2 linked regions of the Homo sapiens genome follow. The protein of the gene in region 2 binds, or shares a complex with, the protein of the main gene of each other region. Each region holds a gene or a part of one and is shown on either strand. Other genes may lie near its edges.

Region 1 (3,844 bases), on a different chromosome or scaffold from region 2:
CACATGCCGGTTATCCCAGCTACTTGGGAGGCTGAGGCAGGAGAATCACTTGAACCCGGGAGGCGGAGGTTGCAATGAGCCGCGATCATGCCACTGCACTCTAGCCTGGGCAACAGGGCAAAACTGTCTCAAAAAAAAAAAAAAAAAAAGCTGGCGTAAGCCATGCACAGTGGTGCATGCCTGGAGTCAGTCTTAACTCCCAGGGAGGCTGAGGCAGAAGGATGGCTTAAAGCCGGAAGTTCAAGACCAGACTGGACAACATAGGGAGATCCCACCCCATCTCAGAAAACTGACCAAGCAGCAAGCAGAGTATCCCATTTTTACTAAATACTTACATATATTCACATATTTCAAATTGTAGAATGAAAAACAAATGTTAGGTCAGCCGCCTAACATTGAGACGTAGTATTTGCTCTGTTGCCCAGGCTGGAATGCAGTGGTGCCATCTCGGCAACCTCCACCTACCGGGTTCAAGCTATTCTGCCTCAGCCTCCCAAGTAGCTGGGATTACAAGCATGTGCCACAGGCCCAGCTAATTTTTGTGTTTTTAGTAGAGACGGGGTTTCACCATGTTGGCCAGGCTGGTCTGGAACTCCTGACCTCAGGGTGATCCACCCACCTCGGCCTCCCAAAGTGCTGGGATTATAGGCGTGAGCCACCGCTCCCAGCCATTTGTTTGTTTTTGAGACAGGGTCTCACTCTGTCGCCCAGGCTGGAGTGCAGTGGTGCGTTCATGGCTTACTGCAGCTCCACTTCGTGGGCCCAAGCAGTCCTCCCACCTCAGCCTCTCAAGTAGCTGAGACTACAGGCGTGTACCATCATGCCTGGCTAATTGTGTGTGTTTTGGTAGCGACAGAGTTTTGCCATGTCGCCAAGGCTGGTCTCGAATTCCTGGGCTCAAGGGATCCTCCTGCCTTGGCCTGCCAAAGCACTGGAATTACAGGTGTGAGCCACTGTGCCCAGCCCATTCTAGTATTTTAACAGTTTTATTGCTATATGATGGACATAATAAACTGTACATATTTAAAGGGTACAATTTGATAAATTTTGGCATAAGTATATACCCATGAAACCATCATCTTATATTTTTATAACTTTTATAAACTGTTCTAAGGTGATGATACATTACAGGGTTTTAGTTTTTTATTTATTTATTTATTTCTGAGACAGAGTCTAGCTCTGTTGCCCAGGCTGGAGTGCAGTGATGCAATCTCGGCTCACTGCAACCTCCGAGTCCCAGGTTCAAGCAATTCTCCTGCCTCAGCCTCACAAGTAGCTGGGATTACAGGCACCTGCCACCACACCCGGCTAATTTTTGTATTTTTAGTAGAGACAGTTTCACCATGTTGGCCAGGCTGGTCTCGGACTCGTGACCTCAGGTGATCCACTCACTTCAGCCTTCCAAAGTGCTGGGATTACAGGCGTGAACCACCGTGCCCGGGCCGGCCTTGTTTTAGGTTTTTACATTTAAGAAAGGGGAAAAAAAAAGCGTATCAGCCATTGAACTTGCTGAACTGAGAGGGAAAGGGATTTGTGCCCACTTCTGGAAGGGTGGGCTGTGGCAGGCTGGAGCAGGCAGGCAGGCCTTTCTGGAAACTTGAGAAGGCAGGAGCCGGAATGGGCTTTGGATGCCTTGTGCTGGGGCCAGCTTCTCAACAGCCTGGGCCCCTACCTGGGGCTCACGGGCAGGGGAGGTGGGAGGAGGCCCGGGGCTACAGCATCCAGACTCTTCCTTGCTCTCCCACAGGAGGCCTGTGCAACCTGTGCCCAGACAGGGCCAACAAGGAGCACATCCTGCACGCAGGAGGTGTCCCACTCATCATCAACTGCCTATCCAGCCCCAATGAGGAGACGGTGCTGTCTGCCATCACCACGCTCATGCACCTGAGCCCGCCGGGCCGCAGCTTTCTCCCAGAGCTGACCGCCACGCCCGTGGTGCAGTGCATGCTTCGCTTCTCCCTCTCGGCCAGCGCCAGGCTCCGGAACCTGGCACAGATCTTCCTGGAGGACTTCTGCTCCCCCCGCCAGGTGGCCGAGGCCCGCAGCCGGCAGGCGCACTCTGCCCTGGGTATCCCACTGCCGAGGAGCGTGGCCCCACGGCAGCGCTGATCCATGGAGACTGCGAGACCGTGGCACCCCTACTGCTGGAGACCACAGTCCTGATGTGGACGCAGGGAACGGGGAGCACATACTGCCCCATTGGTGCCTTTTCAGCCATCTGAAAGGCGGGTTCTTTCAGCAGGACAGGCATTTACACTGATGAAACGCCACTGGGAGTGAGGAAGCCAGACTCCAGAGACACGGAGAAGATCAAACTGGAGCTGCGTTCATAGGCTGGCACTCTCAATCCTACATCAGGTGCCACCACCACCAGACTCAGGCCCTGGTGTAAGAAGCGGCCAAGTGCCTGGACCCAGAGGCTTTGCAGGACAGTGTTCTCAGGAGCTGGGCCTGAGGCTTAGGAGAGCTGCCTTCGCTGCAGGAAATCAGGGATTATCCCTTAACAGAAGTGTCTGGAGTAGTTTTCAGGTATAGGAATGAGATGCCTCGTGGTGAAAGGATCTCACCCTGGGAAGATGTGGTGCCCCCTCCAGGGCTCTGGAGGATGGATGCCTCCCCCAGGGGCTCTCCAAGCTGGGCATTTGGGCCTGGTGGATGCCAACCTGGATAACCTGTGGCCCAGCATTGACTGTCCACCCAGCCTTGCTGTTAGGCACCATGACTCCAAGATGAAGATGTGGTCCCTGCCCTTGAGTGACAGCCCAGGGACTTAATGTGGCCATCGGGCATCAAGCACAAGGCCATGCAGGTGATGATACGTCGGAATAGAGGCACCAGCCCTGGTAACTGCATCTTCTCCCCTTGCCACCCCATGGCCCCGGCTGAAAGCTTCGGCCCTCCTCTGCTGTCACTCAATGATGGGGAGCCCTACCCCAGAAGTGTATCCCACGAGGGCATCAGGGACGCAGTGAGTGTTGCTCAAGGGAGTCAGGAAGAGACGGCAACGTAAAGGATGTGGCTCCATGTCCATGGTGCCCCCTGGTCAACATAAGGAGCGTGGGATCCGATGGAAAGGTGGAGCTCAGGGAAAATGGGGGTCCTTGCCTCTCGTGTACCCCCTCAAGGCTGACCCCTTAGATGGCCCAGGAATGGCAGGTGCTACAAAAATGGTACCCACGTGGGCATGGAAATGGGGCAGATTAGGGGACCACTGGACTCAGAGGGGAGGGAAGGGCTCATCAGCACCCGCTCAGGGAGCCTGTCCCTTTATGTTCCCAAATAAAGGGTCCTAGAAGACTAGAAAGCCAAGGTCTTTTATTAAAGGTCCCGACTGGTTTTCCCACTGTATTTCCATGCCAGCCAGGGTCCAGGGACAGCCTCTCGGGAGGTACCGGGTGGCTGGGCCTGGGGCCCGGTAGCACAGCGCTTAACGGTATCTGCCTGCTCCACTCCACGGGGCCAGAGGCACCAGCACGATGCCGCCCCGACTCGGCTCTGCGGTGGCCCCTGTGGGCCTGCCCTTCCTTTAGCTCCAGCTGCTGCCCGCGGCATCCCCGCTCATTCCCGCTGCGCAGCTCCGCGCTTGCTATCTAAGATCTCCCTCCAGTTGTCACTCCAGGAGAGCAGCCGTCTCCTTGTCGGGGGCAGGACCAGGTGCCGATTGTGGCAGCAGGTGAACAAGATGTGCTCCCAGCTTGGGGTCTCCTCCTGGCCTAGGACAGTGAAAGACAGCGCGCTGCCATCTGTCATGGGTATTATTACTCCCTCTCCCTAATCCGGGCAGGCCAGAGGCCTGGAGGCTGCCAAGGATAACGGGTCCAACCTCGAACTGTGTCCTTGTCAT
Region 2 (5,936 bases):
TAACTATGGAAATGTGTATTTGGTCATTATTGATGGCCCACTTGAGATATGTGGTTATAGACCAAGAATGAGTCCAGTCAGTGGAGCTGTTTTTCTTTGGTAACATTTTATAGCTTGACTACACTCAAGCTGTACGGAATGGGCAGTGGAAAAGATTTGAGCTTAACCCTGGTTGGATGTCTGTCAGGTAAGTAAAAGGGCACATGCATGAAATTCTGCATCTTTCATAGGGTTCACAAACACATTATGGTATATGAATTAATGCAACAGAGGATTCAAGAACACTGTAATACAGGGCAGCATGGAGCAGGGAAAGAGATTTTTTTTTAATGCTTTTCAGAATTTGATACGTATACCTAACTTGAACACAATAGTTGAAGCTTTGCCAGACAGGTCGGTAGGGGCTTTCTCATCTCCTTGTACTAGTAATTTCTTCTTGGCCTTTAGAGATGGAACAGCATCCACCTCTGATTTTTCTTGTTAGAAGGCATATCAGAATCTCTCAGGAATGCAAGTGTAGTGTTCTTTTTTCTTTATTTAAGTTTACGAAATACATGCTTATAGAAAATTAAAACATTATAGAAATATGTAAAGCCACCCATGAAAGTTCTTCCATAATTCTGCTTCCTAACAAAGCCACTGTTAGTAATGTGGTGTTACTTATATTTTAGAGCATCAAGTTGTCCACAAAAATGCTTGCACAACTTTTTTTTTTACCCAAGTTTAGAAATCTTGCCCTAATAATCCAGACATTCCTCACTCTCTTAACGAATACTTAGAAACAAATTGCATAAAGGTACCATCTATTAAACCAGTCCCTTACTGACAGGGCATTTGGGCTAGTTTTAAGTATTAAAGAACAAAGGTGCAATGACTTTGCTTGTGTACACTTGTCAGATCATTCCCATTAGGCAGTTTCCTAGGAATGAACTTAGTAGGCCAAAAGGTTCAAAGTTTCAATAAATCCCAGAAAACTACATTCCTAAAGGCTGTGACAATTATACTCCCACCTATGGCATACAAGATGGGTAATGTAATTGGAAGTGCTTGTTCAAAATCATGGTGCAATTTTTTAATTTGGAAAATTTAAAAAATTGACTGTTCTTATAACTGTGTTTTCTAATTATAGAAGGTGAAGTCTGACAAATCTTGATTAATGGGGAATCAGGATCCCAGGGCAGGATTTATAAAACTTGTATTTACCAAAAAGAGGCATCAGTATTAGAAACTTTAAAACTTCTCTTTAAAATCTCCGCAAGATTGCAGCCCTTGCTACAGCTTTAAATAGCTGCACTGGTATCTCCAGTTATTTTCCCCAAGTTTCAATACCAGTATTGGTATCCTACTAGTTGAGGAATAAAATCCATACTTATATGAGCTTTCCCCAGAACAAGCCAGCTTTAGTCCCATTATTCGACAGTAGCAGAACATTCTTTGTCCCAGAACACACCGCACACTTTCTTGTGCCTGGTTTCATCACTTTATGCCTCATCTCTTTTCCTTCTTTGTCTTCCTTCACTTCAAGGTAATCTCCAATGCCACTTACTCTATGAAGTCTTCCACAATCCTTCCTGAGAAAAATAAATGGTCTTATCCCTTCTGTTCCCCCAGCATTTCACCTGCACCTCTGTTACAGAATTTCTATACTAAGCTACCAAACTGGAAGTCTTAGAGGATAGACACATCTTACTTGTCTATTTCCTGAACAGTATCTAGTGCAGAACTTTGTAGAACATACACTCAAAAACTGTTTTTGGAATAAACATACATAAATTAAGACTTCAAATCTTTTAATCTCAAATTATTAGTCACAGATGTTATTTTTTAAAGGACTAAAAAAAAACTACTGCTCCTTCAAATGTCCTAATTATCGGTTTCATACATTTTTTTTAAAAAAGGGGGTTTTCTAATAAGACTGTCAAAATATTACATCTAGAATAGTTATGTTCAATAAACCTGCATTTACTTGATATCTGCATCTTCCTAGTATCACAAATTGTTTTAGAAATAAAAACACAGGGGTAGGGGACAGGGGACAGTTTATTGTAAAATATGAAGCAGCAATGATTGAAGCAAGTGAATTTCTCCTTTATATTCCCAGCCAGAGCACAAAATGACTGGATATCCTCATGAACGCCAAGCTTTTTTTTTTTTAATTAAAAAGAAAAAAAAAGAGAGAGAAAAAATTCCACATTCATTAAAATCTCTTTCTCTTGATAATTTCTGGTTTCCAGCTGACTGGATGAGTTTCTTCTGTCTAAAAATAGAAAAGTGAGTTAAAATAAAGTATTATTAGTTTGCTTCATGTCTAATAGGCTTCCTTTCTAACAAAAATAAGGTATCTAACATTATTCATTGGCTTTATACACTTAGTTCTTTGACAGTTTTAGGAAGAGTTGATAAACTTCTGGCATTATCCAAGTCTAATAACAGATGGATGGATTCATTATGTTTAGTTTGTAGTTTTCCATCTAAAATAACATTTCTACTTGGATATTCTACTAACACCAAAGCTTATGATTCTCGAATTAATTTACATAGCAATCTATTTATTTGCTGTTATTCTTGGTGCAACATTTCCCAGCAACTATAACAAAGGAAGTTGGGATAAAATTAAAGCCATCCATGGATTCACTGGCATCAGTGAAACAATATAGAAATATATAAATGGACACTATTCAAGAAGACAGATATCTTAAATACTATAAAGATTATTTTTCCTTCTGATAATTAAATGAGAATATGCTGCCAAATTGGTATAGCTGTTTTACTTAACGAATGTGAAACACAGAACTTACGGCTGTGTCATCCTCTCTGTATACTTTAATGGTTTTATCAGCTTCAGCTGTTAGTAATCGACTTTCAGACTGATCAAAAGCACAAGCAAATATTCCTGATTCACTGTCCAAAGACCCAGGTTGCACAGCTGCGTGAACTCTCTGAAAATTGTAGCCAGTTCTCCAGTCCCAAAGATGCATGGTGCCATTGTCAGCTTAAAGGGAAAAATCTAGTTACACCTGGTATCCCCTCAGCAGTACAGCTTGACAAACATTTATGAAGCATCATTAGCCCAAGCATGGGAATACTACGGTTATAAAAATACATAAGACACAGGCACTCCACCTTCTCTTAATATTGGTTTGTCTACTTTCATTTGGGCTGGGTTCAGAACTTATAGATCTTAAAAAGCACCTGAAAATCTGACATCCAATTCCAGAATAATAAACAAAATTTTAAGCAATTCCCAGCATAAATCCCTGAGATTCATTAGATGGGAACTCAAAGAGGACTAAGCTATGAAATATACTACATGTAATATGAATATGCATGAACACACATAATAACATGCAAATATGCCCTAACCAGGCAAGTGCTGCTATAATACTTAAGTGTGACAGCTTAGAAGCATTACAAATGTTTATTCATCATTAAAAGAAAAAATAACAGACTAAACATATTTATTATAAAAATCTTATTTTACCTCCAGATACAAGCACTCCATCAGAATTTACCGTCAATGTGTTAATAATAGCATTATGACCGGAAAGATTTTGAATGAAACTTCCATCAGGGAATTTCCACTGCTTTATGTTATCTGGAGAACCAGATGCAAATGTGTAACTGAAATAATATTAAAAAGAATTAACGACAAAGTAAACCAAGTTAAATAAAGTGGTGGGTTTTAAAAAGTTTATTTCAGTTATATTTTGCAGTGTGTACTCAATGATTTATATATTCAGCAAAATAGTCGTATCAAAATGTAAAAATATTAAGACATTTGTTCAAGGTTAAATCAGACCTTCACATTTTTAACAGTATATTTTAAGTCCTAGATTAATGTTTTGTTCTCCTTTCATTTCCTTAATGCTCTGCACTAAGCCAGAGCAATAAATGTGCAGAAGCCCTATTTCACATGAAGGGCAATGTGTTATGCAACTCTTTTGGAGGGAGGGAGAGCAAGACAGGACAGGAAGAAAGAGAGAAAAGGAATAGAGGGCAAGAGGAAGAGAGAGAACAGGAGGGAGGAGAGGCGAAATGGGAGTGAGAAAGATAAGCAAAGGAAGGAAGAAGAGAGGGGGAAAAGGGTATGGAGAGTAGAAGACAGAGAAGAGGAAAGGAAGGAGAGGAAGAATCCAGAAAAGTGTCAGAGTGATCTGATACACCAAACAATAGTTGTGATATTATGCTCCACCTTTTTGGATACTCTGACTGTAATGTTCACGGTTCTTATTATTTCTGTTTCTACATATATTAACTTCCTCCTTAAGAATTAAACTATTCAATGAATGTCTCAGTGTCCAAAATCATTTATGTCCAAAACATTAAGCCTAGCCACTAATATCTTTTATTTTGACATGCAGCATTTAATCATGATTTACACTGTCTCATTTGACATTATTTATTTGTTATCAAGTAGAAGGCTTTCCTCATGTTTTATAGGGCATGAAGCAAAATAGTGCATGAGGAAAATAAAAGAAACACACGTTCCTATGCGGCACAGGCCTAGAAATGACAGCAGCTAAATGACTGCCAAAAGCAGTGCTAACACCACTAGCATTTCAGCATTATCTTAAGAACTGAAGAAAAACAAGAAGCTAATTAGGAAAATACACTTACTGTCTTGGATGTAAAACCACAGCCCTAACTGATTTTTTGTGATTTGTTAATGTCACTCTTGTTTTTCCAGCCACCAGATCCCATAATCGAATTGTAGTATCATGGCTTCCTGTAATGGAAACACATATATCCCTCAAAACATAGACCAGGAAAAATAATGCAAAAGTTAAATAAAATACAAAGCATTCTTCCAAAACACATATGTTCTAAATGAAAGTCATATCACACGCAAATTAGTCTTGGCTAATTTCTTCATAGTTCCAAATTTTTAGGTTGATTTTAATTCTTTAAAAAAATGCAATACAACAATTGATTCACTGTCAATTGAACAGCTAAAACAAATGCAAATAACAAATAAATATATAATTGTATACCCTAGTGAAAAGGAAAAAACTTCAATGATTTTTTTAAGTTAATAAAATACATCAGGCAAAGGAATTATTTTCTAGTATTAAAGATCCATTGTTACTAACTTTATTTAGAGCAAAGTAAGATTCAAATCAGTTCTAAAGATTACTAGTCTCAAGATGTTTTGTCTTCTAACTTCAATTTCTTAGAAAAATAATTTTGACACTATAAAATAATAATTGTTCATAACACAGTATTCTAGTCAGACATTACAGGATACTATGTATGGCATACTCTATGATATGTAAAAAGCATGAGGTAAAAACAGTGGAATGAAATTTCATTTGAATACATTTCAATTGTCCATGATTAAAATATGACACAGAAACACTGTAAACACAATACAGAGCAAGAGTCATCATGAATATTAAAAGTATATGTATAATAACATGGATTCTGACATGAATATTCTGTAAACTTGAAAAGTATCGATCATACCTGTAATAATTTGTGGTTCTGCAGCCTGACATCTCACTGTAGCAACTGCATTTGTATGTCCAGATAATGTGTGTACACTGGCTTTAGTTCTCACATCCCAAATCTATAAAAACACAATAGACATATTAGGAAAGAGAATAGGTATTCATTATCTCAAGAAGATAACTGGATCAATTCAAGGCTGAAAATTTACTACATAACTAGTGCCTGAATATAATAAAGAAAATGCTTAAGTGAAAGATAATGATTTACAAACTGGAGGACGAATATAAATAGGAGACAACTTGCAAGAATTCTAAAAAGCTAAAAGATCAGGGTACTGAAAATCTAAGAATGAGTATGATGGGACTACTTTTTAAGACTACTGAATGAAAGAACTAATGGACAATAGTTGTTACAGAATGGAACGTGAGAATATCACATTTCAGGGGCAGGGCACTAATAACACTAACATGGTGAGGCCATACAACTGA

Evidence for each region.
Region 1: PLRG1 (region 2) and ARMC7 share a complex: the UniProt entries of both Homo sapiens proteins name them as parts of the minor spliceosome.

The regions. Positions count from the first base shown.
Region 1 is NC_000017.11:75,126,930-75,130,773, forward strand, and holds the end of ARMC7 (armadillo repeat-containing protein 7), read left to right. Parts: intron 1-1,747; coding exon 1,748-2,109; 3' UTR 2,110-3,343; downstream 3,344-3,844. Other genes in the region: NT5C (5'(3')-deoxyribonucleotidase, cytosolic type), read right to left, coding at 3,559-3,713, 3,824-3,844. UniProt on the Homo sapiens protein: As a component of the minor spliceosome, involved in the splicing of U12-type introns in pre-mRNAs.
Region 2 is NC_000004.12:154,534,488-154,540,423, forward strand, and holds the end of PLRG1 (pleiotropic regulator 1), read right to left. Parts: intron 5,567-5,936; coding exon 5,464-5,566; intron 4,727-5,463; coding exon 4,618-4,726; intron 3,622-4,617; coding exon 3,482-3,621; intron 2,993-3,481; coding exon 2,799-2,992; intron 2,258-2,798; coding exon 2,198-2,257; 3' UTR 518-2,197; downstream 1-517. UniProt on the Homo sapiens protein: Involved in pre-mRNA splicing as component of the spliceosome. Component of the PRP19-CDC5L complex that forms an integral part of the spliceosome and is required for activating pre-mRNA splicing.